7 separate regions of the Homo sapiens genome follow, and regions 1, 2, 3, 4, 5 and 7 are each linked to region 6. Evidence: fine-mapped expression QTL. A gene starts in region 6. Each other region holds a variant in brackets. All regions are shown on one strand. Distances are between the middles of the regions.

Region 1 (4,197 bases), 110 kb after region 6:
GGGGGCGGGCCAGGAAGTATGTCACATAGGGCTTGCTTGTAATCCCAGCCGCTGGGCCTGGACCCCGGGTCCCGCATCTCTTCTCCCGTCTCCCTCCTCGTTTCACCCTTGGGTTCCTTGGTGGGAGCCGAGTGAGTGAGTGAGTGGCGCCCTCTTTTGACAGAGCCCAGTGGAGTCGGATTTTCTCCACCGCACTCTTCGTGGAGCACGTGCTCCTAGGAACCGAGAGCCGCGTCCCCGAGTTACAGGGGCTGGTGACCGAGCACGTCTTCTTACTAGACAAGGTGAGTACTTGGGCTGGCCTCAGCACATGCACGGATCCACCCTTTTCCGAAAGGAAGAACAGCACTGACAGTGATCTGCGGCTGGGAGACGCTCTTTTGGCTCTGACCGTTTTGTCTAGACATGCAAAGGAAGGTGATTTCATCACTAGGCCATTACATTTTCCATGTTTAATTGTTTAATTATTTACCCTCTGCTGATTGCTAAGTCAGAGCATATCATTTAGAAGTGATTCCAGGAACTGTGTGCAGAAAGGGGCTGACGCAGGGAACATGCTTGTGAAACCTTCGGCAGGGATTACCTGGCCTTTGGAGTGACCCCAGAACAGACCACTAGCCTGGCCATCTGTGGAAGCTGTTACCATTTTCATAGTCATGGAGACAAGGATGTCAGAGAATGCCACCGGGGTTTGGGGTCTTCAAAACAGTGCTGTCAACAGAACCAAGGAACAGGAAGCCACCATGCCTGTCACTCAACACCCTTCATAAAGCTACTAATGTGGGGTGGTCTGCAGAAAGAAACCTGTGACCCTACAGTGATGCCCCTCTGTGGCCACGCAGTGGTGTCCAGCAACAGTGGCCACTCAGCCAAACACAGCCTCAGCCTCTGCCTCACCCGCACCCGTGACCTTCACGTGAGCACATCCAGAGCCCTCACCGCCAGGGGGTCTGGAAGAGGCAGCGCTGGCTGTCCGACCTTTGGAGCACAGGAAGGTTTACTAAAAGGAGGCCAGCATGGATGCTGGATGTGTTGACTCTGACCTATCAAAACATCAGCGGCTTAGACACAGTATCAGCTGATTTCCCACCCAGGATGGGTATGAGCAGCCCAAGGCTAAGGTACCAGCTCCCCGGAGGCTGGCACGGAGTCAGGTGCCCACGCTCCGTCTTGTCCCTTCATTGTCCCTAATGTTCAGCTTCCACCCCGTGGCCTGGCGTCACAGCCTGTGGGACAGAAAGCAGGGGAGGTAGAGGACAGGCCGTTTTCCTTAAGAGCCCAATCCCGGACACGCACACGCCACACCAGCTCGTGTCTCGTGGTCCTAAACTTAGGCACTCGGCCTTATCTGGTTGCAAGAAACTGAGGAGTTTTTCGTGGCATGGTCATGTTCCAGGTGGAACTTGAGTTCTTCTGCTGAAGGAAAAGGCGGAGAGAGGATAGTAGGACACAGCCGGTGCCCCCCTTCCACCCTTTTCCCCACACCCACACAGCATGCAGCCTCTCCAAGTCTCATCATGTCTCGGCGCTCTGGGAGATGCACAGGGCTTTCAGCCAGGTCCAGCGTGGGTCATAAGGGCCAGGTGCCCATAAACCCAAAGGTAAAGGAGCTGGCCCCTGCCTGCTCACATGCCCACAGGATTTGGGAGGTTAGGAACGTGGGGAGGGTTTTTTTTGGCGATAAAATGGCCTCAGAAACTTACTGGGTTTCTGGTTTATTTCCTTCCAGTCAGATCTCTGTGCAGGTAACCACAGCCAAAGACCTTACCTCGTTAGTTTTCCTGCTGGAAGCCTGACTTGTACCCCTACCCAGCCCCCGCTGAAGAGCAGCCCTTGGGACCATTTGAAACAAGAGGCTTGGGGGAAAGCCCTGCCTTCCGCCGTGAGGCTGGCTCCCTCGGCCGGGCAGGAAGTTGTCGACGGAACTGCTGCAGGATGGCACGGGTGGGACTGCGGGCATGGCTGGCTTTTAGTTGTTTTGGATATGTACCTTGAAGGGGAATTCCTGGATCATTTGATAACTCTGTTTAACTTTATGCAGAGGCACTG[T/C]ATTGTTTTCCACGGGGGCTGCAGCATCTTTCTTACATCCCCACCAGCCAGGCACCAGGGTCTGAATTTCTCCACATCATGGGCAACACCTGTTACTATCTGATTTTTTTCATAATGGCCACCGTGATAATTCATTGTGGTTTTTATTTGCATTTCTCTAATGACTAGTTATGATGAGCATCCTTCATGTGCTTGTTGGGCATTTGCTGTCTTCTCTGGAGAAATGTCCATTCAAGTCCTTTGCCCATTTTTGAATTGGGTTGTTGATTAACAAAGTTATTAGGATATTAAAAATACACACATCACTTCCAAGTAAGATTAATCCCAGCAATTCAAGGATGGCTCAAAATAAAAAAAAAAAAATCTGTAAATGTCATCAGTTATATAAATTAAAAGATAAACTCTATATGATCATTTCAAAATGTAGAGAGAAAGCATTTGATAAAATTATTTGGAAAGAAATACCCTTGTCAAACTTGGAACAGGAAGGAACTCTCCTTGAGCTCACAATGCCCAAGGTAGACATAATATTAAGATGTCTATACCAACATCATGCCTGCCCATCAAATTCCATTAGTACAGCCATTAAACTATCTTGTACAGTGATGATGTGTATTGCCTAAAAACCAGTGTTTCCACTTCTAACTATATCCTAGAGAAACTTCTCATTTGCTCTCAGACATATGCAAGAATGTTGAATACAGGACTGTCAGGAATTGCAAAAAACCTAAATGCCCATTAACCAGCAGACAGGTAACTGGTGTCTTTATCAGTGGGTACAGGAGTGATCTGGACCTAAGGTATCATGAAGAGAATGAGTTGCAGAAGCCTTTATACAACGTGGTATCATTGATATCAAGTTTTAAAACATTCAAAATAATAACTCCATGTTCAGATATGCTTACAGCTATCCTAAAAGCAGACATTTAGAAATATAGTTATCTCTGGGGAGGGACGGAGGGATGTGAAGTTGTAACTATATGCATAATGTTTTGTTTCTCTAAAAAATGATCTATCGCAGCAGCTTGGGAGGCTGAAAGAAAATTTTAAAAAATTTAAAAATTTTAAAAAATGATCTAAAGCAAATATTCCATAAATGCTGAGATTTCTTAAAGCTTGGTGGGGGGTATACAGATGGTCATTATTATTACTTAAAGTTTGAAATATCTTAGTGAGAGCGGAGGAGACCTTAAAAGAAAAAGAAGAGGGAAAATCGTAACTTGAGAATGTAGTCCCCTGACAAGCAGCATAATCACAAAACGAGCATTCAGAGTTCAAGCGTTAAACACAGGATCACAAAGGCCTCGCACCCCACACCCCACACACACGGCGCAGCCTTGGCCCTGAATGTGGTGCTCCCTCTGTCGCCCGGCCTGGCCGCCCTCAGCCCTCCCCCCTGCTAATGACTCCTGTCCCTGCCTTTCTTCAGTGTCTTCGAGAGAACTCTGACGTGAAGACGCACGGGCCTTTTGAGGCCGTGATGCGCACTCTCTGTGAATGCAAGGAGACAGCCAGCAAGACCCTCAGCAGGTGAGACCTTAGGTTTGGATCTGTGAAGGCGAGAATTCTGAACCTCTCGTGGTTTTCACTTCTTCTGGCCAGTTTCTCTGCTTCAGAACTGATTGCCCTTCTTGGATTCTAGGTTTGGGATTCAGCCGTGCTCCATCTGCCTGGGAGATGCAAAGGACCCCGTCTGTCTGCCCTGCGACCACGTGCACTGCCTGCGCTGCCTCAGGGCCTGGTTTGCCTCAGAGCAGATGATATGCCCCTACTGTTTAACTGCCTTGCCAGACGAATTCTCTCCAGCTGTTTCCCAAGCGCACAGGTACAACACCCTTTCTCTCAAGAAAGCATCCTTTTTTTCATTTTCCTTTTTTGGCAAACACAATATTCAGAAATATAAACTCTATTAACCTTCATTTGGTAGAAAACCTGACCTCAGAGAACTATCATAAGAGACGCCACTTACGTACTTTCATAAATATCTGGTATCTCAAGATTATTCTCTCCCCAAGACATACACATACAGATTTCAGACAACAAATTCAGAGGAACTAAGCCAGAAAGTCTTAACAAAGGTCCTCACCAGAGGCCCAAGGAATGTAGACGCCAGTGTTTTTTTTTTTTTTTTTGAGACAGTGTTTCACT
Region 2 (4,197 bases), 90 kb after region 6:
GGGCAGGGTGGGGTCGTCTCTCCAATGCCTTTGGCCCTGTAGGGCCTCTCGGCCCCAGCGCTGCCGTGTTTTGGGAAACTCCTTTGGGTTTGGATTCTGTGCCGTTGTGTGGCAACTGCACCGCGCTGAACATCGCAGGTTTCTAGGATCTGTCTAAACCTGGCAGCAGACTTGCAACCTTTCCTTGAAGTCTGGCAAGTAATTTGCATTTCTTAACTCTGTAGATCACCACTTTCTCCAGGCTGCTAACAAGTCACGACTGTGAAATTTTAGAATCAGAGGTCACAGGCAGGGCTCCGAAACCCACACTCCTGTGGCTGCAGCAGTTTGACACCGAGTACTCATTCCTCAAAGAAGTCCGGTGAGGTTCCCTGCCTTCCCTGCTGCCCTCTCCCTCCCCAGCCGCAGCCGTGTGGCTTCTGCGTGGCGATGGTACCCGCGCCGGTTAATGAGCGCCACAGTCACGTGACTGTGAAATAGATCCTTGTTAAATCTCTCCCAGCATCCCTCTCATCTCCATCATCTTCTGCAACGCGGTGTCTGGCCTAACATCCTCCTCCGAGAGCACCATCCTCGGACCTCGTTAGGAGGCATTCCTTGGGTTTCCTCCCCTGGACTATCTGTTCTTACTGAAGAAAATCCTACCTGAGTAGCTGTTTCTTTGTAGCCTTTATGTTTCCCATCACTTTGGGGAATTTTCTTTTCCATTTTTTTAAGACAGAGAACTCACTTGAATAACTTCCCTTTTCTTTCAGAAACTGTTTAACGAATACAGCCAAATGTAAAATCCTCATTTTTCAGACAGATTTTGAAGATGGAATCCGTAGCGCCCAGCTCATTGCCTCAGCTAAGTATGTTTTTAGTATTTTTCTCAGAAACTATGTAAAAAACCCAAAACGTAGGAAGTCCTAGAGAATTTTTTCCTTGAAGACAGTATAGTATCATAATCAGTATAGAAATAAAAATAACAATTCTTCCCCCGCCTCATTCCCCCAAGTGGGATTAGGGAAACTGAAGAGAGACAAAAAGAAAAGGCCAATAACATTACAAAAATAGTGGAATGGGCCTGGGCAACAGAGCAAGACCTCATTTCTAAAAAAATAAAATAATTAGCCTTCCACAGTGCACCTCTAGTCCCAGCTGCTCAGAAGGCTGAGGTGGGAGGATCGCTTGAGCCTGGGAGGTCAAGGCTGCAGTGAACTGCGATCCCACCACTGCAGTCCAGCCTAGGGGCCAGAGCAAGAGCCTGTCCTCCCCACAAAAAAGGTGAAATGCGAGAGGTGTAAATAATGGAACATTAACAAGCTATAAAAGGATGCCTTTGAAGCCTGTGTTTGTAGACATGTTTTGGTCATTATTAATTTTGAATTATACAATTTGAATTTATTTCAAGTTCGAGGGAAACAACAGTAGGTAAATGCTTTTTTTCCTATTTATTGGATATTTTTATAGTGTTTGTAGGGGAAGTCTGATGCTCTTAGAATTAACTTTGTGCCTTTATTACTTAAAGTAAAAGTGATTTCTGGACCTTTTTGAAGCATTGGATGCCATATTTCAGTTCGTGGCTTAAATCTCAACAAGAAACTGGCTTTGGCCATTGGTCATCTGAAGGGAATGGCATTGCGCACAGAACTCTTTGTTGAAATGGAAAGGTCCACTGGGTACAGGGGCTGTTTCCTGTAATCCTAGCTACTTGGGAAGCAGAGGCAGGAGGATCGTTTGAGGCCAGGAGTTTGAGACCAGGCTGGGCAACACAGCAAGACCCCCATCGCTTAAGAGAAAAGAAGGAATGGAAAGTTCAGCTGTCCTCACCCTTAGCTGCACCGGGGCAGGCCCATTGAGGAGCACAAGATAGGGTTTCTGGTCAACGAAGGAATGCCACTTCAAAGCAGAGGACACAGGAATGGGGAAGAAAACGAGCCGCTAAGAGAAGATTTCTCATCCCCTTGTGAGAGAAGAAATCACGATCGCAGGGCTCTGAAGTTTATGTAAAACTCATCGGAACGGGTGGCCGTGAGACCGAACCAACAGCTCGGAGAACACCCTTCTGCAGCTGCACAGCTTTGCTTTGTTTATTTGCTTGTTTTTGTGTGTGTGTTTGTTTTTAAAATAGGTATTCTTTTTTTTTTCTTTAAAT[A/G]GGTATTCTGTTATAAATGAAATCAACAAAATACGAGAAAATGAGGACCGTATCTTCGTCTATTTCATCACAAAACTGTCCCGGGTGGGAAGAGGAACAGCCTATGTGGGCTTCCACGGAGGTGAGATCAGAACATCAGTCAGGGTATTTATTTATGTATTTATTTATTTATTTGTATCTATTTATTTTTTGAGATGGAGTCTTGCTCTGTCACCAGGCTGGAGTGCAGTGGCGCGATCTCAGCTCACTACAACCTCAATCTCCTGGGTTCAAGCGATTCTCCTGCCTCAGCCTCCCAAGTAGCTGGCATTACAGGCGTGCGCCACCATGCCCAGCTAATTTTTGTATGTTTAGTAGTGACGGGGTTTCACCACGTTGGCCTAGATGGTCTCAATCCGTTGACCTCATGATCCGCTCGCCCCAGCCTCCCAAAGTGCTGGGATTACAGGTGTGAGCCACCGCACCCAGCCCAGTCAGTGTATTTATTTAAGTCATGTTGGAACTGTTTCTCATTTGGTTCTGTGTTGTACAGTCTGAAATTAGAATATTATTGTTAACCTCAAGAGGATTCTTTCCAGATGCAATTAGATTTCTTACCACTGATTACCATGAAAACATGAATCCTGGGATGGGAGGCTGCGTGCACCTCTCCTGGACTGACTCTAGGCAAGCTCCTCACCTCTTAGCATGTAGGTCACACGGCGTGGAGACTCCCGACTCCCGACAGACACTGTCAGGAACGCACCGATACGCCTGTTTGGCGGGGAGGGAGAGTGGCGGGGGTCGGACTATCTTCAGATCTCTTTTTTTCCAAGGAATGGTCACCAGCTATTTATGACATAGAAAAGTTGGTATTCCAGAAACAGGAAAGTAAGTTTACTTGAATAATTTCGTGGAGAATGGAAGGCAGACCTTGCCAGTGTCCCCCACCCCTCACTAACTGTGATACAGCAAATACAACAATGCATGGGTGAAAGAACCACAGGCCTTATCCATGCGTCCTTCCCACGCTGGCCATTGCAGGTCTTACCGTTGCTGCTTATGGTGAAGCTGTCGATGGGCATAGAATCGGGTCGTGTATAGTATCGGGTTGGGTGGTTTCTGCGCAGGCCCATTCCAGGGTTTCGGCTTCAGGGTGCCAGTCATTCATTGCGCAGCAAGATAATGACAAGCCAGGGTGTGCAATGTCCCTGCTTAGGGCTGAGCAGCAGCCGGGAAAGACACAAAGACAGTTGTGGGTGGCTTCACTCTTCACAGGGCTGTGGCAGTCTGTCCACATCGATGACCTCCGGAGATCCACCCTCATGGTTTCTGATGTGACCAGGCTGCAGCATGTCACCATCAGCCAGCTGTTCGCGCCCGGAGACTTGCCTGAGCGTGAGTCACGAGGCGGAGCCCCTGGGGGAGCAGGTGGTGGAAGGGCAGATGGCAGGTGTGGAGCGTGGCGTGCACATGGCACTAGGAGCAGGGCCACCGTGTTTCGTCCCTCGGCAGGAGCTCGGGGACACATCTGCAGAACTGACTGGTGGCTCATCATAGAGCACCAGGGCCGAGCAGGTGCGCTTACCACAGGCTGAGGTAGAGCTCTGTGAGCAGGCCAGCCATGGAAGTGAGCACCTAGAACACGCCAGAGCCCAGGCTGGAAGGAAGGGGCTGCCTTGGGGGCTGATCTTCATGACCGTGATCTCTCATCTGGGGACCTAGCACCACAGCAGGGGCCGGGGAAGCCTGCACTCGGAGGCTGAGCACACAGACTCCCAGATGGCACCGCTGCCAGTCCCTGTGCCACCTTCTGAGTGGTAACGCAATCACGTTTGCTTCGACTGCAGTGGGCTTGGAACACCGGGCGGAAGACGGCCATGAGGAGGCGATGGAGACGGAGGCCAGCACATCAGGGGAGGTGGCAGAGGTGGCAGAGGAGGCCATGGAAACAGAAAGTTCTGAGAAGGTGGGAAAGGAAACCTCTGAACTCGGAGGCAGTGATGTAAGTTCTGGTTCTTGGGACCTCCCCTTGTGCTGCTGGTGATGCTTCTGAGCTGCATCTTTAAACGCTTTTGCAT
Region 3 (4,197 bases), 110 kb after region 6:
GAATATTTGACCCTGTTAAAAAAGAAAGCATTCATAACTGAAGATAAAACTGAACTGTACATGCTCTTCATCAACTGCCTGGAGGTAAGTGAACTCTCTCTTCCCTGAATTTCTTTTGGAAACTATCTGAACCACATGGTTTAAAATTTACAGAATATAATTTTAGTCAGTATAATTAACGAATGCTCTGTTCCGTGCAGAAAAGAAGAAAGGTTTCAAAGACGCGGCTTCTGCCTTCAGCAACGTATATTTTGGCATTTACTTGCATATACATACAAAACAGAACAGCCTAGGAGAATATACTGCCAAAGTTAACAGTGGTTATCATTGAGTGGGGACATTATGGATACTTTTTATCTTCATATTTTTATATCCAAAATTTTTATAATGTAAATAAATTAGATAATTTTTTTTCCTCATAGGTTCACTTTTCCCCTCCTTCTTGTCCTTAAAATAAAAAGGAATGTTAGGTTTCCATAAGTCAAGAAATTTACACTGAAACCTACAGTAACATTCTTCTATCCTTCCTTCTCCACAGTCACATTGGCGACTGTAGAAGCTTGGGGCATCCATGTTTAAAAAAATAATATCCTTTTCTTTCTTGTTCCTTGTTCCTCAGGATTCAATACTTGAGAAGACCAGTGCTTACTCCAGAAATGATGAACTGAACCACCTAGAAGAGGAAGGTCGTTTCCTTAAGGCATATTCTCCAGCAAGCCGGGGCCGAGAGCCTGCCAACGAGGCCTCGGTTGAATACCTGCAAGAGGTGGCCCGGATCCGCCTCTGCCTCGACAGAGCTGCAGATTTCCTCTCGGAGCCTGAGGGAGGCCCAGGCAAGTCTTCTCTGCCTTGCTTTCCTTTGGGTTTAAAGACTCCGTTATTTAGAAATTCAGGAAGTATGGGAAACTAGTTCTTCGAATAGACTACTACTGGGCTTTTCTACATCCCCTCTCCCCTGGATGTGTTTCTGTGAATGCCTGTGGGTAGGTCCGATGCCCTCTGGTTGGCCTTGTGTCCTACAATAAATGCCCTAAGTCACCAGCCACTCACCCGCTTTCTCGTTGGCCTCTCAGAGATGGCCAAGGAGAAGCAGTGCTACCTGCAGCAAGTCAAGCAGTTCTGTATCCGGGTGGAGAACGACTGGCACCGGGTGTACCTGGTGCGGAAGCTCAGCAGCCAGCGGGGGATGGAGTTCGTGCAGGGCCTCTCCAAGCCCGGCCGCCCGCACCAGTGGGTGTTTCCCAAGGACGTTGTCAAGCAGCAGGTGAGAAGCGGGGCCGGGCAGCACACAAACATGCACCCCCACAGCCCCATACACCCCAAACCCACACACCCCCCTACCCTCACACCCTACCCCCCCCACACCCCACCCCCTCACACCTTCCCCACCACATACCCTCATACCCCCACACCTCACCCTCACACCCCCACACCTCACCCTCACACCCAGGGATGGTGCCACTGCTTCCGCGTTCCGCCTGCCCTTAGCATCCCCAGAGCCAGGAAGGAAACCTGCCGCTTGTCTGTCTGGTCCTTTGTCTCTGTGCTTCAGCTGATTTGCCCCAGCTTGTGATCATGTTTACACTGCCTGCTGTAGGGCCAAGGTGAGGGCACTCACCTCAGAGCTTCTTTAATTAGGCATCACTTCTAATTGAATTTCACTCAAGGAAAGTAGAACATTCTTGTGGCCTTTGCTTTCAGCGAATTAAACGTAGTTCAGCTTGCAAGGTGCGACCTTTTTACCTCTGGCAGGCAGAGACAGGCAAGAGCAAGAACTAGGAATAGAAGAATTGCAGAAGAGGCTTCAAGGCCAGGCTGGGCACAGTGGCTCTCACCTGTAATTCCAGCACTTTGGGAGGCCGAGGCAGGCGGATCACTTGTGGTCAGGAGTTTGTCAAGACCAGCCTGGCCAACATGGTGAAACCTTGTCTCTACTTCAAAGAAAAAAAAAATTAGCTGGACATGATGGTGGGTGCTTGTAATCCCAGCTAGTCGGGAGGCTGAGGCAGGAGAATCACTTGAACCCGGGAGGCAGAGGTTGCAGTGAGCCGAGATTGCACCACTGCACTCCAGCGCCTGGGCGATAGAGCGAGACTCCGTCT[C/CA]AAAAAAAAAAAAAAAAAAAAGAGGCTTCAAGGCCTCTCAGTGGTCCTTTCCAGATACCCAGAAATTAACAAATTCTTATTGTCCAGGGGATACAAAAATGGTACTAAGAACCCCGGCACTGTTTGACTACCACCTGGGGTTTAGAGTTGACATGACTTGAGCCACCCGGCCTCAGGTGTGGTGCGGTGCGCCGCAAACGGAGGAAGCAAGCACCTCCCCAGGTAGCGCTGCCGTCGGCAGGCATTCCCTGCACTTGCACCTCTTCGTCTACTGAGGAGGAAGCTCCCTGCGAAGAGGGCACCAGACTGTCCTGCCTCAGGCCAGGTCAGGGAATCCCAGCTTGGCTGCCTTTAAACCTCGAATGATCAACCACCTGGTTCCTGTACCCGTTCAGACGGTTCTTTGCAAGACATTCCTCCCATTGTTCACCCCCAACTAACCTCTGTATTCCAGGGGCTGCGGCAGGACCACCCAGGCCAGATGGATAGGTACCTGGTGTACGGCGATGAATACAAGGCTCTCCGTGATGCTGTGGCCAAAGCTGTCCTCGAGTGCAAGCCACTGGGCATTAAGACTGCTCTGAAGGTAGGATGGGCCCGTGGCTTCTCTCTGATACCAGGTGGCATCCCTTGGAGCCTGCATGTTCCCTGGTTTATGTCAAATGATGCAGGGTGATGGACCACTGATGCAGCCCATCACGTGACACTGTATTGGAAGTCACGTGCCCACAGCCTCCAGGGCGCACCTGGCTAGTGTGCGTGAACCAGTGGCTGGAACAGGACAGCTATGACAGTTGAGCTGGGTTGACAGATTTGCTGTGTCTTGCTGATCTGCCAAGTCCATCAGCAGCGCCTTTTGATTTATGCCCATTACTTCCTTTGAGACCCTGCTGGAAAACAGTCTAAGAAAGATGCTGACACAACTATTAATAGCAAAATTCATACCTAGATGTATTCATAATTCAGATATGCATGTGTGTTTAATAAAAATACATATGTTGGTGTAGTGTGGGAAGTTAAAAAATATAAAGATGTTTTTAGAATCTAACCTTTAAATTGGTCTGGTCTTGCTTCCTTTTTGAGTCCCTGTGCCAGGAAAAGAGGAAATGGAAAATCCTCTTTCTGCTCAGAAGTTTCTAAGACCAGTGAAGGAGTCAGAAGAACAGATGGTGATTCCGTTGCTTCTGTCATTAAGCTGGCTGCTAAATATGCGTTGAGTTTAATCTGAGAGTATTTCAGGAACTTTGTAGCCCAAAAGTTGCTCGCCAGAAGACTGCCCATGTGGGGCATGACCCCAGGTGTCCAGGCCTGGAAAAGGCTCCTTCCCTTTTGGTGGGTTGAGGGCTGAGGCATGTGAAAAGTTTCTTTTCACATGCAAACTTCGTGGGCCTCTGGCCCTTAGGTAGATCTGGCAGGCAGCGGTGCGGGGGCGTCTATCCTATAATCCTAGCACTTTGGGAGGCCGAGGCATGCAGATCACAAGGTCAGGAGTTTGAGACCAGCCTGGCAAACATGGTGAAACCCCGTGTCTACTAAAAGAAAAAAAAAAAGAATTAGCCGGACATGGTTGCGTGTGCCTGTAGTCCCAGCTACTCGGGAGGCTGAGTTAGAATCGCTTGAACCCGAGAGGCAGAGGTTGCAGTGAGCCGAGATCATGCCACTGCACTCCAGCCTGGGTGACAGAGCAAGACTCCATCTCAAAAAAAAAAGATGTGTTGAGCTTTTAAATTCTTACTTGATACCCTTGATTTTGCAGGCCTGCAAGACCCCCCAAAGCCAGCAGTCAGCCTACTTCCTGTTAACACTGTTTAGAGAGGTGGCTATTTTGTACAGATCCCACAATGCAAGCCTCCACCCCACGCCAGAGGTGAGTAACCGCCTGCAGGGCTGTGTTCAAAGTCTCAGTATTTGGAGGGATTTTATTGAATAGAATGAAAGTTATCAACACAAATCATACCATAATTTTTTTATCTAGGATAGAGGTTCTCAACCTTGTTATGTGGAGGAACACATAACCAAGCTGTTTAACCCAAAGCTTGTAGAATTATAATGAAAACTAAAGCCAAGAACATAAGATAATGTTTAACAGAATAGA
Region 4 (4,171 bases), 150 kb after region 6:
GGGTTTTGTCTGCGGCTTGTCCTGCTACACTCTGGTGGGAAAGACACCGCAGCAGGGGAGCAGGGTGCGCAGGGTGCAGTGGGTGACGCTCATTCGCTGAAAACTGACCCTGCTTTCAAAGCCTTGTCAGTTCCCAAAGCTGTATGAAGCCTTTCCTGAGCCTCAACCTCTAGAGTCTAATTTCATCCTCTGTATTTTCCCCTTTGTTAGTCCAAACTGCGTCATTTTGTAAGCCCCTTTCCATTTTGTAGACCTTGGTCAAAGTGAAACATTCCACGGGGGTTCGAGCCATGAGAAACAGCCTGCCTCTTAACATATTCTGCTGGGACAAAGCGCCAGGAACACCACATTCTGCCGGAACCACCTCATCCTGGGAACACGTTAACATCTTCCCGGACAGCAAGCCATACTGCCTAGATCCCTCCTGCCCAGGCCTATGAGTACCCCAGCCTGTAATCGCTGGTGGGCTCTGGCATTAAGCTGGCCCCCGACAGGTGTTTGCAATACACCTGTGTTGCTGTAGAGCCGCCCGCGCGCCGGCAATCTCACTGTGCGTCATTCTTTAACCTTCACCTTCCCTTCAAAACCTAACACCCTTGACGTTTATATTCAGGCTATTATATATACATACACACATACACCCTTCTGAATCCTCCCAGGAGAATATAAAACCATGGGTTAAACTGCTACACTTCAGCTTCAGTGGCTGCCTTTCAGTGCTTCAAATACACCAACCTCTTTCCCACCCCGGGACCTGCACGAGAAAGCTGCTCCACTCACCCGCCGTGCTCTTTCACTCACCCTTCAGGTGTCTTCAATATCGCCTCTCAGGCCTTTCCCAACCACCGGTTTAAAGTCGGCTCCCCACAAATAAATACATATTCTCCCTCACAGTACTTCGCACAACACCTGGCACAGCGAGAGCACTGAACCAACACTCATTCAATGAGGAACACGAGGTAAGAACCAAGACCCCCCAAGGTCGCCGTACTTTGTCTGGTAGGAGAAGCTTTCTGCCCAGCAAGGTCCGACCCAGATGAAACCCCGTCCAAGTCTGCAGCACCCCCGTGAGTCCAGCCCGCTAAACTGTGAAGAATTTAAATACACGACACCTGCCCTCAAAAGCTTGAGGGCACCCCTGAGCTGCCATCGAGGTGGGGGCGTCAACGACAGGCGCTCAGTAAGTGCTCCTGAGGCAACTGCCGGGCTGTCCTGGACCTGGTGAATCCTTTCGGGGTTCAGCAAAGGCGGACGCTGACCGGGCCAAGGAGTGGGACCTGCAGTGCTGGACCACCCTTTTCCAAGCGCAGAAGTGCCGTGCCCGCCGGCTCTCAACAGGGCAAGAGGCCCCTCTCGCCGTGCAGAGCGCAGCGCTTGCGGCGGGGACAGCAGAGGCGGGACGGGCGTCACGGAGTTCCCGGGTCCTCGCGCGGTCACTTACCTGGCCTCAGCTATCCGCTGAAAAAGGGGCGGACGGCCTCCCGGGATCCGAGCCGATATCGCGCGCGGCGCCGCGGGGCAACCTGAAGCCGTGTGCGTGCGTGTGCGTTCACGCAGGGGCTCACCCAGCGGCCACGGGCTTCTGAAGACCCGGGTGGGAAGTGCGGCCCGGGAAAGCGCAAGCGTCTCCATGGCAACGAGGGCGGACGGCGTCAGAGCGAGTCGCTTCCGGAAGTGACGTGCGGAAGGGGTGCCCGGGACGAAGCCATGGCCCTGGAGGCGGCGGGAGGGCCGCCGGAGGAAACGCTGTCACTGTGGAAACGGTAATGCTGTCAGGCGACGCGCAGGAGGCGGGGGCCGAGGCCGGGCGGCCCTTCGCGGACCCTCCGAGCTCATAGTCTTCAGGCTGTGGAATCGGAGCTGCCACCGCCCGAGACTCCAAAGCAAAGCCCAGTTTCCGGCGCGGAAGCGGAGGGATCTCAGGAATTGTAGTCCGCGGGGTGGGCGCGGTTCTCGCTTCCGGCCAGTTTGTCTGGCCTGCGCTTGCGCGGGTCTCCGCCGCCTGGGCTCCTAGGGACTGTGGCCTCGGCGGTATGTCCCTTGCTTTCCCTTGAAGCGGGAGAAGACCCGGCAGAGGCGCTCTGTCCGCTGCAGCCGCGCGGGTGGAGGAGGCAGAGTCTGAGGTGTGACCCCGACCAAGTTTGACGCTTCTGTCCTCCTAGGGAGCAAGCTCGGCTGAAGGCCCACGTC[G/A]TAGACCGGGACACCGAGGCGTGGCAGCGAGACCCCGCCTTCTCGGGTCTGCAGAGGGTCGGGGGCGTTGACGTGTCCTTCGTGAAAGGGGACAGTGTCCGCGCTTGTGCTTCCCTGGTGGTGCTCAGCTTCCCTGAGCTCGAGGTAACCTGGGAGGACGCCGAGCTCGAGGCGGGCCCCTCGGTGGGCTCGGGCGTGCGGTCTCCGGGACAGGGAGCAGTGCAAGCGTAGAACCCGGCTTCTCGTTTTGTAGGATGTCATTAATAGTCTGGGGAGTTGGCCGGGCGCGGTGGCTCACGCCTGCAATCCCAGCACTTTGGGAGGCTGAGGCGGGGGAATCACCTGAGGTCGGGAGTTCGAGACCAGCCTGACCAACATGGAGAAACCCGGTCTCTACTAAAAATACAAAATTAGACGGGTGTGGTGGCATATACCTGTAATCCCAGCTACTCGGAAGGCTGAGGCGGGAGAATCGCTTGAACCCGGGAGGCGGAGGTTGCGGTGAGCCAACATCACGCCATTGCACTCCAGCCTCGGCAACAAGAGCGAAACTCCATCTCAAAAAAAAAAAAAAAAAAAAAAAGTCTGGGGAGTCTTGGAAGGGAAAAAAAGGCAAAAATTAAGGGAATTCTGTGACTATTAAGAATCAGCTCATGAGCTTTATCTTCAAGTCTGATTGTTATCTTGGGTTCTTCATCTCAGTGACCTGTCCACCACGCTCCCAGTTGCCCAAGCTGGAGATCTGCATCCTCCTGGGCCCCTCCGTTCCTCTCGCGTCCAGTTGCACACTAGCTCGCTTTTATTCTGCCTCTTAAATGTCGCTGGAATCTGTCCCCTTGTCTGTTTCCCCTCTGCTCCTTCCCTGGCTGTGCCACCATCACTCCTGTGGGTTCCTGAGCAGCATTTTCATGGGTGCCCTGGCTCAAATGTTCCTCCTCAGTGGTTTCTTTTCCATACTGCCAGCAGACCAATTTTCCTAAAAAGCAAGTATTTTCCTCAAAAGCAACAAGTCCCCTCCCTCCCTCCCTCCCTCCCTTCCTTCCTTCCTTCCTTCCTCCCTTCCTTCCTCTCTCTGTCTCTCTTTCCTTCCTTTCCCCTTCCCCCACTCTGTGCCCAGGCTGAAGTGCAGTGGCATAATCTTGGCTCACTGTCAAGATCTGATCTCAACCTCCTGGACTCAAGTGATCCTCCCACCTTAGCCTGAGTAGCTAGGACCACAGGTGTGAGCCACTACACCCGGCTTATTTTTTTATTTTTTGTAGAGACAGGATCTCACTATGTTGCCCAGGGTGGTCTCCAGCTCCTGGGCTCAAGGGATCCTCCTACCTTGGCCTCCCCAAGTGCTGAGATTACAGGTGGGAACCACCACACCCAGCCCACAAGTCCTCTTAGAACATTGAAGTGCCCTTCTCATGACCTCATGGTGAATAAAGTTCACTCTGGTTGGCATGGCTTCAAGGCCCGTCATGACCTGTCCCCTGCGTAATTTAATATGACGCTGGAGGCTCAGCCCTCACCACTATTCTCAGTTCTTCCCACCTCCTACAGCCCACTGTGAGTCCCTCACGTGTTTGCTACGCTGTATTTGGCGGCCTGACCTTTGCAGTAATGTTTCTTCTGGAAGGGTTTCCATCTGGCTAACTACTACTCATCTCTTTGGGCTCAGTTTAGACATGACGTCCTCCACTAAGCTCCCTCTCATCCCACAAGACGAGGACTTGTCCCTCAGCACCATGTCTTAGTCCGTTTGGGCTGCTGTAATAGAATACCTTAGACTGGGTGGCCTACCCACAGCAGGAATTTATTTCTCACAGTTCTGGAGGCTGGAGGCTCAAGATCAGGGTGCCAGCGCAATCAGGTTGTGGTGACGGCGCTCTTTCAGGTTGCACAGGGCCAGCTTCTTAACCGTGTTCTCACATGGTGATCCACTCACCTCCCTAGAGGCCCCACCTCGTAATACCATCACCTATGGGTTATAATT
Region 5 (4,197 bases), 34 kb after region 6:
GCGTGGTGGCTCACGCCTGTAATCCCAGCATTTTGGGAGGCCGAGGCGGGCGGATCACGAGGTCAGGAGATCAAGACCATCCTGGCTAACACGGTGAAACCCCGTCTCTACTAAAAATACAAAAAAATTGGCCGGGCGTCTTGGCAGCGGGCGCCTGTAGTCCCAGCTACTCGGGAGGCTGAGGCAGGAGAATGGCGTGAACCCGGGAGGCGGAGCTTGCAGTGAGCCAAGATCGTGCCACTGCACTCCAGCCTGGGCGACAGAGGGAGACTCAGTCTAAAAAAAAAAAAACATGTGATAGGGGATTTGACCTGGAGGTCGGCAGAAGCTTCCACAAGGAGGTGATGACCGAGTTGAGAACTAAACAGTTGCAGGCCCTGCTGGGCCCAGGGTGCAGAGCTGGGGTGGGCGGGCCTGCCAGTCTAGACAACTGTGGGTCGAAAGCATGGCAGGGGGCTGAGGAGGCCTGTCCGGGCGCTTCCCATTTCTGCCTGATTTTTACTTCTGTTTGTAGGTCTTCACGTGGCCTCTGACCCTGTCATTGACATCTTGGGTTTTCTAATTATTTTACAGTCAACCTCACTGGGTTTTCTGCAATGAGGTCTGCACTCATATCGTTTGCAATGGAGCCTAAGAACAGTCACGAATTCAGCCCTTGCCCTGTGTCAGCCACCATGCCAAGGGCCATCTGTGCCAGCTGGGCAGCCTGCACCTTCCTCCAGGGGCTGTGTCCCGTTCCTAGTACAGAGGAAACCAACTCAGTGATTGACCAGGACAGTGCTCACTTGCTAGTGGGGGGATGCGGTTTCTGTATGACACATTCCACCTCCTTGTGATGATGTTTAAGGAAGTTGTTGATCAAGTTTGCTGAGCTACATAGTTAGAGATCCGTTGCAAGTCTCAGGCCCGCTGCATCCCATGACCCTGGGCTTTCCACTCATTACTGTGGGACGTCTAGGATGTCTGTTTGCACGGGGCTGGCCTCAGATGAGAAGTCAGTTGGAGGAGTCTGGCTGTCGTCAGTGTGTGGGTTTTTGCTTTTCCCTTCCTCCCTTCCTCTGCCCCATTTACTCCATATCTGTACCAGTCGTGATCAGCCTTCTAGGCTAGTGTCTAGGTCTCCAGGGTTTTGATGGTCTTAGGTAGGCTCTTGTTCCTTCTGTCCCTCTTAGACTGGCATCAGTACTATGACATAGTTTATATGAAGCCTCATGGGAGACTCCAGAAAGTCATGAACCACATCACAGACGGGCCGAGGAAGGACCTGGTGAAGGGGAAGCAGATTGCCGCTGCGCTCATGCTGGACAGCACCTTCAGCATCCTGCAGACCTGGGACACCATCAACCTGAACAGCTTCTTCACCCAGTTCGAGCAGTTTTGCTTTGTCCTGCAACAGCCTATGATTTATGAAGGACAGGCACAGCTGTGGACCGATTTGCAGTACAGGGAGAAAGAGGTATCAGGCTTGCCACCAGCTGCTCTACCTGCTGGGCAGGAGCCACACCTGACCTGCTAGTGGCCGGATGACCCCTTGACTCTGTGGGCCAGGTTGCAAATGGGAATGTGTAGAACTTTCCAGCCTTTTCTCCTACCACTGTCTCTTGGGATTTCTCTGCCCTCCCCCATTTTCCTCCTTTTACTGGTTGTAATCTCAGCCCCACCCCAGCACCAGTCCTGAGTCCTCCCCTGGCCTTGGAGGGAGAGTGGAAGGAACGGGGCACCCTCTGTCACTGCACCTTTACCCACACTGCGGTGCAGCCTGGGTGGGTTTCAGGCCGGCCTGGAGCTGTTTCTGAGCTGAAGCTGAGCCCTGATGAGCCTCAGGGGCCCTGCCTGAGCCCTCATGCCAGGGTCTTGGCTGCACTGCAGCTCCTCCTGTGGCTCTCACAGGTGTGGTGGTGGGGCACGGATGGGGTCTGCTGCCCTAGCTGTGGTGCTGGGGCAGCTCTGGACACTGCCGGTGAATTCAAGTCCATGGTTCATGCATCTTCCTCTTCTCCCACCATCAGGTGAAGAGATACCTGTGGCAACATCTGAAAAAACACGTGGTACCATTGCCGGACGGAAAAAGCACGGACTTTTTGCCTGTGGACTGCCCAGTGAGGAGTAAACTGAAAACAGGCCTGATTGTCCTTTTTGTAGTGGAAAAAATTGAGCTTTTATTAGAAGGCAGCCTGGACTGGTTGTGTCACCTCCTAACCTCAGATGCCAGCTCACCAGATGAGTTTCACCGTGACCTAAGCCACATCCTTGGGATACCTCAGAGGTATTATTATTTTTTGTCAAAATGTTTTTTATAGCTATTATAATGATTTTCTCTGATTGCAAAAATAAGTGCTTGACTAGAGTGACTGAAAGCACACAGGCAAGAAATAAAACCACCCGTGATTTTACCACTCACTGTGGTCATGTCAGTAGTTTTTCCTAGCATCTGTCTTATTTTTATTATATTC[T/C]GTCCTCTGTTGAATTCCCTGCCTTTTGTTTTCCCCCCAGACGGCGTCTCACTCTGTGGCCCAGGCTGGAGTACAGTGGCGCAATCTTGGCTCACTGCAGCCTCCACCTCCCAGGTTTAGGCAATTCTCCTGCTTCAGCCTCCTTAGTAGCAGGGACTACAGGTGCACACTACCACACATGGCTAATTTTTGTATTTTTAGTAGAGAAGGGTTTTCACCATTTTGGCCAGGCTGGTTTCGAACTCCTGACCTCAAGTGATCCACCCACCTCGGCCTCCCAAAGTGCTAGGATTGTAGGCGTGAGCCACCGTGCTGGGTCTGAATACCCTGCTTTTTGAAGCTTCGTGTGGTATCATGAGCAGCCTCTGTGTGCGCGTGTTTAGGAGGTTGTGGCGTGACGCCAGCCTGAACTCATCCCCTCAAGGACATCTGCAGAAGCAGCGTGAATGTTCTCCCCATGCCCCTGCCTGTGCCGTGTCTAGTTCAGGAAACACAGTGTGACTGTCCTGGGCCTGAAATGTTCAGTGGTGAGAAGGCGATGGCCTTTGACTTGGTACCTGCTCAGACCCCACTGAGCTCTGCACTCTCTCTGCGTGTGTTGATTTGAACGTGAGAATGACATTAGGTAGCCTTTCCTGACCAGCATGTCTTATCACGACATCTGCCTCTCAGTTTTACACATTTATTTATTTGTTGTTTTGAGACAGTGTCTTACTCTGTTCCCCCAGTCTGGAGTGCAGTGGAGCAATCAGCTCACTGCAGCTTCAGCCTCACAGACTCAGGTGGTTCTCCCACCTCAGCCTCCTGAGTAGCTGGGACTGCAGATACACACCACCACTTCCAGCTAATTTTTGTATTTATTGTAGAGACGGGGTTTCACCATGTTGCCACGGTGGTCTTGAGCTCCTGACCTTGTGATCCGCCTGCCTCGACCTCCCAAAGTGCTGGGATTATAGACATGAGCCACTGTGCCTGGCCTGGTTTTACAAATAAAAAACAACCAAATAAACGCCGCACATTTTGACAAAGAGGAGGAGTGGAGGCAAAGGCAATGTACAGAGTTAGTGCCGGGGCTTAAAGTATGAGGAATCATTAATATCTTTTGACTGTAGGAGATTCACCATGTATTGTTTATAGGCTCAACCCTTACGTTTAAAAAGTTGTTTTGGGGCCGGGCACGGTGGCTCACGCCTGTAATCCCAGCACTTTGGGAGGTCGAGGCAGGCGGATCACAAGGTCAGGAGTTCGAGACCAGCCTGACCAACATGGTGAAACACTGTCTCTACTAAAAATACAAAATTTAGCCGGGCGTGGTGGTGCATGCCTGTAATCCCAGCTACTCAGGAGGCTGAGGCAGGAGAATCACGTGAACCCAGGAGGCGGAGGTTGCAGTGAGCCGAGATTGTGCCACTGCACTCCAGCCTGGGCGACACAGTGAGACTTCATCTCAAAAAAAAAAAAAAGTTGTTTTGGCCGGGCATTATGGCTCACACCTGTAATCCCAGTGCTTTGGGAGGCTGAGGCAGGAGGGATTGCTTGAGCCAGGAGTTCAGGATCAGTCTGGGAAACAAAAATTAAAATAAAAAATAGAGCCGGCCAACACAGTGAAACCCTGTCTCTACAAAAAATACAAAAAACTAGCCAGGCATGGTGGCGGGCACCTGTAGTCCCAGCTACTCGGGAGGCTGAGGCAGGAGAATGGCGTGAACCCGAGAGGCAGAGCTTGCAGTGAGCCAAGATCGTG
Region 6 (4,197 bases):
GGTGGGAGGAAAAAGCAGGTTTTAATTGGAGACCCAGCAAAGCGAGAAGATGCCCAACTAGCGTTCTAAAGTGTCACCTTGGCTGGGCGCAGTGGCTCATGCCTGTAATTCCAGCACTTTGGGAGGCCAAGGCAGGTGGATCACCTGAGGTCAGGAGTTTGAGACCACCCTGGCCAACATGGAGAAACCCCGTCTCTACTAAAAATACAAAAATTAGCCAGGCTTGGTGGCGGGCGCTTGTAATCCCAGCTACTCGGGAGGCTGAGGCATGAGAATCACTTGAACTGGGAGGTGGAGTTTGCAGTGAGCCAAGATCACGCCACTGCACTCCAGCCTGGGGTATAGAGTGAGACTGTCTCCAAAAAACAAACAAACAATAAATAAAGTGCCACCCTAAAATTAAAAATTTATCCTCAGGTTTTGTGTGTTTGTTAGTTTTTGAGGCAAGATCTCACTTTGTCATCCAGGCTGGAGTGCAGTGGTATGATCACGACTCACTGCAGCCTGGAGCTCCCTGGGCTCAAACGATCCTCTTGCCTCAGCCTCTTCAGGTGCACCACCACGCCCAGCTAATTTTTTTAAATGATTTTTTTTGTAGAGATGGGGTCTCTCTATGTTGCCCAGGCTGCCATCGAGTTCTTCTAGGGAAACTTGCCGTGGGCACCGTGGGGAGTGGGGTAAGGGCAGGGTCTGTGTCTTGTTCCCATGGCTGTCGTGGGCAGTTGTCGGTTAGGAGGGGTGGCTGTCGAGGATGTTGGACTAATTGTTGGCGACCCCCCGCCCCAAGCAGGAGCATTCAGCTGGGGTTCCGCGCCGGGAATTGTTTCAGGATGAGGGTCCCCTCTGGAATGCGCAGAGGGGCGCAGTGTCCAGAGAGGGACGGGATGAAGGGGTGAGAGGAGAAGGAAGAAAAAGAAAGTGGGTGATTTTAAAACGGAGGTCCCTGGTCACACCATGAGCCTCACAGATGGGAAAACTGAGGCACGGGGGATGGTGCGGACCGCCGTGGCCCCTCCATCATCAGTGACAGAGCGCTCCGCGCGGGGCCGCGGAGGTCCCTTAATCTGCAAAGGCCCCCACGCGGCGCGCTGACGACGTCCACTGCACCCGCCGGGCGCCCTCTGGGCCGCTCCCAGGCTGGCCGCCGGCTCTGCGCGGCCGCAGACACTGTCCGAGGTGCTGGGCGCCGGGGCGGGGGGCGCGCCTGTCCCGCCCCACTCGGCTGCTCGGGCCTGCCCGGGGTCTGGGCTTCCGGGAGACCCGCATGCGCCCCACGCCTGGCGGGAACCGAGGCCCCTCCCGCGTCTGTACCCGGCGCGCAGCGGCCCGAGGCGCCTCCCGGGGGCTGGGGGCCCGGAGTCACTGGGAGGCGCCACCGGCGGGGAATTCCGCACACGCCTGCGCGGGGCCGGCGGCGGCGGCGGGCAGGGCGGGGCCGGCGGCGGCGGCGGCGGGCAGGGCGGGGCCGGCGGCGGCGGCGGCGGGCAGGGCGGGGCCGGCGGCGGCGGCGGCGGGCAGGGCGGGGCCGGCGGCGGCGGCGGCGGGCAGGGCGGGGCCGGCGGCGGCGGCGGCGGGCAGGGCGGGGCCGGCGGCGGCGGCGGCGGGCAGGGCGGGGCCGGCGGCGGCGGCGGCGGGCAGGGCGGGGCCGGCGGCGGCGGCGGCGGGCAGGGCGGGGCCGGCGGCGGCGGCGGCGGGCAGGGCGGGGCCGGCGGCGGCGGCGGCGGGCAGGGCGGGGCCCAGGGCCCCGTGACCCGAGGGGCGACAGCGCGCGGCAGGCGGCGAGCTCGGGGGCCGCAGGTGCGAGCGGGCCTGGAGAGTCTCCCGGGGCGGGGAGCGGGCTAGGATACAGTGGGCCCCGCGGGCCGGCGGGCCGGGTCCCGGGGAGCGGCGCCTGCGTCCGGATGCCCCTCCCGGCCGCCTCTTCCTGCCGGCTCCAAGTTTCGGTTTCGCCGCCGGGGTGCCCGGTCCAGCCCCGCCCGCGGCGCCCACTGACCCTGTTCCCCGGCTGCGGGAGGGGTCGGGGTGGGGGCAGCGGGCACGCCTGGGACCCCGGCGACATCCCCGGAGCGCAGAGCGCGGAGGAGGCTTTGCGCCCCGGCAGTGCTGCCCCCGGGAAGTGGCCGGGGCACGGGGGGTGTAGTGGAAGGGGACAGCCGGACCCGGGCCTGCAGGTCCGCCCGGGAATCCTGCGCCTGTACGAATGGCAACAACGGAAAAGTGAAGTTGCAAAAACAGACTCCTAACTTTTACGAGGGAGGCATCGCCCCGTCTGAACCGCACCGCGCAGCGTCCTTCCGACTTGGCGAAGTCGCCCGAGCGCGGGGCTCAAGGCCAGGGTGGGCACCCCTCCCGGATGGCTGCCTGCAAGCCGGCGGGCCGGGCCCTGGGGGAGTCCAGGGCGGGAGGGGAAGGAGCTGTGCAAACATGGTGGTGGCCCTTCCCTGCCCCCACCTTGTTGACTTTGGTTGTGGTTGGGGGATGGGCTTTGATTTGGGTGGCAGTGTCTGTGCTTGGGAAAAAATGTCAGAGAAAAGACAGGAAGCGGATTGAATGCAACAGTGTTGGGTGCCTGGGGCTCTCTCTTGTGTCTTCCGGCCCCTAGAGCAGATGGAACAATAAGATGCTTTAGGGGGCCGGGCGCAGTGGCTAATGCCTGTAATCCCAAAACTTTGGGAGGCCAAGGCGGGTGGGTCACCTGAGGTCGGGAGTTCGAGACCAGCCTGGCCAACATGAAACCCCGTTTCTACTAAAAACACAAAAAATTAGCCGGGTGTGGTGGCGCATGCCTGTAACTCCACCTACTTGGGAGACTGAGGCGGGAGAATCGCTAGAGCCCGGGAGGCGGAGGTTGCAGTGAGCTGAGATTGCCCACTGTACTCCAGCCTGGGTGAAACTGTCAAACAAACAAAAAATGCTTTTTGGAGGATTTTTCGAGTTTTCTGGTCTGTGGTTCCCCAGTGTAGCATTGGAGAAGGAAACACTTCGGGTGGAAAGAAAGAGGCCTGGGCGGTGGGGAGTCATTGAAGGTGTTTGAGGGAGGGAGTGTCCACTGGTGGTTGTTTCAGGTAGAGTGTGGAGGGGAGGAGGTACGGTGGGAGCCAGGGCTTGGCTGTGGCAGGGGTAGGGGAGTTTTAAACTCTCCTTCTACTCTGAAGGAGAGATAATTTTAGTCTCTGGAATAAAAGGGCAGCAGACCTGGAGAAAAGGGATGCAAATTGTCCCATACACCTATTGGGAACCTCATCAAAGAGAAGACTGCAGAAGACAGATGATTGATGTTTTTATGGCATTGGGACAGGGGCTTGGGGCTGGAGAGGGGAGGTGTGCAGGGTTGTCTTGTTGTGCAGATAATCACTCAGGTGATCTCAGAGCTGCTCTCAGAGGAACTGGCGAGGCCGCAGGCACTCCTCTTGTGTGTCCCTGGGACCGTTCCTAGATCCCTCTAGGCAGATAATGGGGCCTCAGAGAGAGCTTCTGCTCCATTCTGCTGTTTCATGGTGTGGATTTCCTTTATAGCCTTTTACAAAAGGATAGCTTCCCAGAACTCCTGAGTATGTGGTTGCTCTGAATAGCCATCTCAAAATTGACCACAGAATCTGTTTTGGGGTGGCATAGATTAGTCTCCCACACAGGTCAAGCCAGGGAACCCCACCCAGTGCCTCCGTCCCTCGTTCAGGCCCAGCCTGAGTGAGCCCACCCCAGTGGGAGGAGAGGGCAGGGCCAGGGCAGGGAGGGGGCCTGAGTGTCCTCCTGGCTGCTGAAGGCACCAGTCAGCTGCCGCTCCAGCCACTGCCCCAGTGGAGTTCTTTGGTTCCAAGCCAGCAGAAGAAGGTGGTGGGTGGGCCAGTGTGCCCTGAGGCTTCTTACTGGGGAGGGAGAGAGTCAGGTCCTCCACTGTTAGGTGGCCAAGCGCCCAAACGCCATCTCCACTCTCACCCTGGATGCAAGAAGTGACCCCGGAGGCCTGAGTCCTGGCCTTGGTCTGGTTTGATGCCATCCACCGCAGAGGCTGTTCTGAGGGCAGGTGGTCAGTGCAGAGTGGCGCGCTTTGTGGATGGCAGCCTCCCCCCATTACTAGGAATCTGACTGCCAGCCCAGTAGCCCTGGGCTGCCTGCTCAGGCCCCATCACCTGTGGGGCAGGTGCTTTAGTCCCCTTAAGAGGATGAGGAGGGTGAGGCATCAGCAGGCTGAGCGCC
Region 7 (4,197 bases), 25 kb after region 6:
AGAGGTTGCAGTGAGCTGAGATTGTGCCACTGCACTCCAGCCTGGGTGACAGAGTGAGACTCCATCTCAAAAAAAGAAAAAAAAAAAAGCCTTTGAATTGCAAATAATGGAAAGCCCAGCTCCACCTTTCTAATCCCATTGAGGAAGTTTATTATGGACACACCTGATGAGCCCCGAGCCTGTAGGTGAGGCTTGGTGCAGGCGTCTCCGGCCCTGTCTACTCTGCCTTCCGGACGGCTCCCCCACTGAGCCTCTCATCAGCTGTTTCCCGTTACTCCCTCGTGCCACACAGTGGCTTCCCCTGTGATCCACCTGCTACTCTGTCCTTCAGGGGACAAGACAGCGCCTCCTCTGGTGATTGATTCCTCTGGAGAGAGGAAGCGCTTCCTCAAATCTCATTGGCTCTGATTGGCTCACAGGCCAATCCCCCAGTGGGTCCCTATGGCCAGGATGATAGACATCAGTGGTTGACACCAGCCCACGCACAAGAGCTGCCCTTGGGGCTAGAGTAAGGCTGATGTTACTCAAACCATGCAGCCGATAACAGGGAGAGCCAAGGGACCATTCCCCAGGATGGGCCATCCAGCGCTGTCACCAGGTGGCCACAAACACCTGCTGTGTGTGGACAGTGACCATGACCACAGCATCACTGATGGGGGCCTTGCGTGTACCAGGCAGTGTCCTACAACTCTCCGTGTGCTTTGTCCCATTTGGTCACCCTCAGTGATGCTCTGATGTGGACACATCTGCTGTCTCCACTTTAAAGATGGGGAAACTGAGGCCCACGGTGGCTCAGTGACCCACCTGGGGTTGCCCAGCCATTGTAGCATGGGGTGAGCTGGATGGGAACTCAGGCAGGCCCTCTAAACCCAGCCCAGACGCCACTGCATGGCAGCCCCGGAGGTACCAGGCAGCTGGCCGGGCAGGGACGGCGTCATCGCCTCTCCGAGGGGAGGCTGTCTTCAGGGCTGGGACCCCACCTGCCAGGTCTCCTCAGCACACTGAGGACGATGGGTGCCTGCAGTGAAGGGTTGTGCAGCACCTGCCTGTTTCTTGACGGCCTCTTGCTTCCCCCTCTCAGCAGGTCCCCCGGCAGCTGACCAGCCTGTCATTCAGAGGCTGATACCTGCTGATGACGCCACTCTACAGTGCTGGGCCCCAGCCCCAGACTCTTCTTCTGCAGCTGCTTCTGCAGTTGCTTTTTTTTTTTTGTGAGATGGAGTCTTGCTCTATTGCTCAGGCTGGAGTGCAGTTGCGTAATATCGGCTGACCGCAGCCTCTGCCTCCCGGGTTCAAGCAATTCTCCTGCTTCAGCCTCCCAAGTAGCTGGGATTGCAGGTGCCTGCCACCACGCCCAGCTAATTTTTTGTGTTTTTAGTAGAGATGGGGAGGATCTCACCATGTTGGCCAGGCTGGTGGCGAACTCCTGACCTCCAGTGATCCGCCTGCCTCGGCCTCCCAAAGTGCTAGGATTACAGGCCTGAGCCACCGCACCTGACCTATTGTTTTATTTTTGAGATGGAGTCTCACTCTGTCGCCCAGGCTGGAGTGCAGTGGCCAGATCTCAGTGAGGCCCTGTTTTAGAGTCAGCCTGCGCTGGGAGTGAGTCTCCTCTGTCCACACCCAAACGCACCAAGTGTGCCATTTCAGCAGTGGTGCTTGCTCCCTGGAATGGGACCAGGTGCTCTCAGCGGTGTGGTGGGTTGGTGGCCTGGGGTTGGTGTCGGACGCAGGCC[G/A]GTGTTGGACGCAGGCCGAGCGGGAGGCTGGAGCCAAGCTGTGGCCTGGGGAGATGTTATGGGTCGGAGGGTCGGGGGGTGGGGGCGCCTCCTGTGCTTTGTGTACACTGAGCATGGGTTTCCTCTGAATTTAAAAAGGAGGAGAAAATCGGAATTTCTGGCCCTGGTTCTGGCAGGAAGTGTGGCCATGTGTGATAGAGAAGGGGTTGCAGTGTCGGCCTGGCCTCCTGGAAGCCCTGGGATGCAGCCCTGTCCAGCTGCGGCCTCGTCATGCCCTGGGTGGGTGGGAACGCAGCCTCCTCCTTGGGCCACACAGGGGCCGACCGTCAGCCGAGGGGCTCCTGAAGTGGCAGTGATGGGATCCTGTGGCGCTTCCTCATCCCCTTGTTACCAGTTGCTGAGGAGAGGGTGGATTAGCCCCTGGGCTGCACCTCAGTGTGTGCAGGTCTTCCCAGGTATGTGGGTGCAGGAGGTGGGGGGCGTGGAGTGGGCACAGGTTCACACCTGCTGCCTGGCAGTTTGGGGCCCTCATCACACACCACCAGGTTTCAGGGGATCTACAAGTCACTTTCCTGTACTGACCTGATCCACACGCACCCCTGAGTACTGCCCCCTGGGAGATGCCTGTGGGGTCCCAGGGTCCTGGCAGCCTCCTCCCACCAGCCGCAGTCCTGGTTCCAAAATGGGGACCGTACACCTGAACCTGGATGTGCCTTTGAGCCTGGCTGTGCCTGCTGAGGGTGCGGTGGGAGCTGCTACTCATTTTTTAGTCTCATCCTTCTCATTTCAAATTTTATGTACGAAATATTTTTATAGAGGTGCATAAAACGTGGAAAGCCTGTGTGTGCTTTCTAATGTTCAAAACCAGGCCAGGCACGGTGGCTCACGCGTGTAATCCCACACTTTGGGAGGCCAAGATGGGAGGATTGCCTGAGCCTAGGTGTTGGAGACCAGCCTGAGCAACATGGGAGACTCTGCCTCTACAGAGCATTTTTTAAAACCAGCTGGGAATGGTGGTTCGCGCCTGTAATCCCAGGACCTTGGGAGGCCGAGATGGGCAGATTGCCTGAGCCTGAGATTTCAAAACCAGCTTGGGCAACATGGTGAAACCCCGTTTCTACAAAAAACAAACCAACAAAAAATTAGCTGGGCGTAGTGATGCTCACCTATAGTCTCAGCTACTCAAGAGGTTGATGGGGGAGGATCACTTGAGCCCAGGAGGTCAAGGCTACAGTGAGCTGGGTTTGCACCCTGCACTCCATCCTGGGCGACAGAGGGAGACCTTGTCTCAAATAAATAAATAAATACAAATCCATCTCAGTGGATGTCCAATAAGCAGTGAGCCCGTGTGAGGGTCTCAGCCCGGCCGTGACCGTGCCGAGTGTGGCGAGCGCTTCAAGGCCACTTGCCCCGACCCTGCCCACCCCCCACTTTTGTTTCTTAATTTCATTCTTTCCAGGAAATTGCAGATTTAACAGATGTTAGGTACTTTGGTCGAGCCAAGCTTGATGTAGTTGAGGAACGGAAGAGAAAGTTGGAGGGAAACACGGGCTAGAGTAGAGTAAATCTAAGAAATAAAGTGAGTGTCTCTCTTTCTGTTTAGAGCAAAAAGAAGAAAAGGAAGAAGAAAAAGAAGGGGAACAAGTCCGCTTCCTCAGAGCTGGCTTCCTTGCCCCTTTCTCCTGCCAGCCCCTGTCACCTGACTTTGCTTTCAAACCCGTGGCCTCAGGACACAGCCCTGCCCCACAGCCAAGCCCAGCAGAGTGGCCCCACTGGCCAGCCGAGCCAGCCCCCAGGCACAGCCACCACGCCACTGGAGGGTGACGGCCTCTCCGCGCCCACCGAGGTTGGCGACAGCCCCCTGCAGGCCCAGGCTTTGGGAGAGGCAGGAGTGGCCACAGGAAGTGAGGCTCAGAGCAGCCCGCAATTCCAGGACCACACGGAAGGGGAGGACCAGGACGCTTCCATCCCCTCTGGGGGCAGAGGCCTGTCCCAGGAGGGGACCGGTCCCCCCACCTCTGCTGGTGAAGGCCATTCTAGGACTGAAGATGCTGCCCAGGAGCTCCTGTTGCCTGAGTCAAAAGGAGGCAGCTCTGAGCCCGGGACAGAACTGCAGACCACCGAGCAACAGGCAGGGGCCTCAGCCTCTATGGTGAGTCATCCGGGAGAGATGGCCTGGGAGTGGCACTGAGCCCTCGGCACCTGGGCTCTGCTGCAAGGTGCTGGCGTTGCTTCCCTGCCGGGGGGAGGGGCGTCCTCTGGGCCCTGCTCCCTGGGTGGGAGTCGGAGGGCTGCCCCTCCACTGGGGATGCCAGCCCACCCTGTCCCTCGGCTTGTGGCAGATGCTGCCCCTTAAACCATTGAGTCGGAGTCACCCTGGCCCATTTTGTCACCTTGGCTCTGGTGTTTGGGGTCTTTCAGGCAGTTGATGCTGTAGCTGAGCCAGCCAATGCAGTTAAAG

Direction of the effects. Alleles are on the strand shown, and positions count from the first base shown. SD is a standard deviation of normalised expression in the study named. Not every link is listed here.
As copies of T replace C in region 1, the expression in monocytes of the gene that starts at base 1,747 in region 6 goes up (large effect, 0.87 SD a copy in Fairfax 2014).
With allele C in place of CA in region 3, the expression in monocytes after interferon gamma of the gene that starts at base 1,747 in region 6 is lower (large effect, 0.81 SD a copy in Fairfax 2014).

What was found.
Region 1: its variant is fine-mapped to the expression of RNF213 in monocytes (Fairfax 2014, PIP 0.95).
Region 2: its variant is fine-mapped to the expression of RNF213 in whole blood (TOPMed, PIP above 0.99).
Region 3: its variant is fine-mapped to the expression of RNF213 in monocytes after interferon gamma (Fairfax 2014, PIP 0.95).
Region 4: its variant is fine-mapped to the expression of RNF213 in testis (GTEx, PIP above 0.99).
Region 5: its variant is fine-mapped to the expression of RNF213 in tibial artery (GTEx, PIP above 0.99). The same link has a PIP of 0.9 or more in atrial appendage, breast, coronary artery, esophagus muscle, thyroid and tibial nerve.
Region 7: its variant is fine-mapped to the expression of RNF213 in lung (TOPMed, PIP 0.92).

The regions. Positions count from the first base shown.
Region 1 is chr17:80,364,270-80,368,466 of GRCh38, forward strand. It overlaps RNF213 (ring finger protein 213), which reads left to right. Exons shown (of 68, transcript NM_001256071.3): 42 at 164-284; 43 at 3,479-3,579; 44 at 3,692-3,874. All of the region lies in intron 1 of RNF213-AS1 (RNF213 antisense RNA 1), which reads right to left. Among named protein-coding and RNA genes, the nearest start is that of ENDOV, 49 kb to the right of the region's middle. The variant T/C (reference allele first, on the strand shown) is at 2,050.
Region 2 is chr17:80,349,546-80,353,742 of GRCh38, forward strand. It overlaps RNF213 (ring finger protein 213), which reads left to right. Exons shown (of 68, transcript NM_001256071.3): 30 at 225-361; 31 at 756-851; 32 at 2,140-2,258; 33 at 3,395-3,514; 34 at 3,967-4,121. It overlaps RNF213-AS1 (RNF213 antisense RNA 1), which reads right to left. Exons shown (of 2, transcript NR_029376.1): 2 at 2,285-4,197. Among named protein-coding and RNA genes, the nearest start is that of ENDOV, 64 kb to the right of the region's middle. The variant A/G (reference allele first, on the strand shown) is at 2,138.
Region 3 is chr17:80,371,902-80,376,098 of GRCh38, forward strand. RNF213 (ring finger protein 213) reads left to right here. Exons shown (of 68, transcript NM_001256071.3): 47 at 1-84; 48 at 620-833; 49 at 1,074-1,264; 50 at 2,557-2,688; 51 at 3,859-3,969. All of the region lies in intron 1 of RNF213-AS1 (RNF213 antisense RNA 1), which reads right to left. Among named protein-coding and RNA genes, the nearest start is that of ENDOV, 41 kb to the right of the region's middle. RefSeq lists an enhancer at 1-1,066. The variant C/CA (reference allele first, on the strand shown) is at 2,103.
Region 4 is chr17:80,413,488-80,417,658 of GRCh38, forward strand. ENDOV (endonuclease V) reads left to right here and starts at 1,680. Exons shown (of 10, transcript NM_173627.5): 1 at 1,680-1,763; 2 at 2,163-2,334. The coding sequence starts at 1,708. It overlaps RNF213-AS1 (RNF213 antisense RNA 1), which reads right to left and starts at 1,681. Exons shown (of 2, transcript NR_029376.1): 1 at 1,442-1,681. RefSeq lists an enhancer at 2,113-2,202. The variant G/A (reference allele first, on the strand shown) is at 2,191.
Region 5 is chr17:80,293,548-80,297,744 of GRCh38, forward strand. It overlaps RNF213 (ring finger protein 213), which reads left to right. Exons shown (of 68, transcript NM_001256071.3): 9 at 1,173-1,456; 10 at 2,010-2,266. Among named protein-coding and RNA genes, the nearest start is that of RNF213, 35 kb to the left of the region's middle. The variant T/C (reference allele first, on the strand shown) is at 2,454.
Region 6 is chr17:80,259,106-80,263,302 of GRCh38, forward strand. It overlaps RNF213 (ring finger protein 213), which reads left to right and starts at 1,747. Exons shown (of 68, transcript NM_001256071.3): 1 at 1,747-1,797. RefSeq lists silencers at 1,126-1,475, 1,755-2,104, 2,485-2,624.
Region 7 is chr17:80,284,476-80,288,672 of GRCh38, forward strand. RNF213 (ring finger protein 213) reads left to right here. Exons shown (of 68, transcript NM_001256071.3): 4 at 3,340-3,888; 5 at 4,158-4,197. Among named protein-coding and RNA genes, the nearest start is that of RNF213, 26 kb to the left of the region's middle. RefSeq lists an enhancer at 259-819. The variant G/A (reference allele first, on the strand shown) is at 1,737.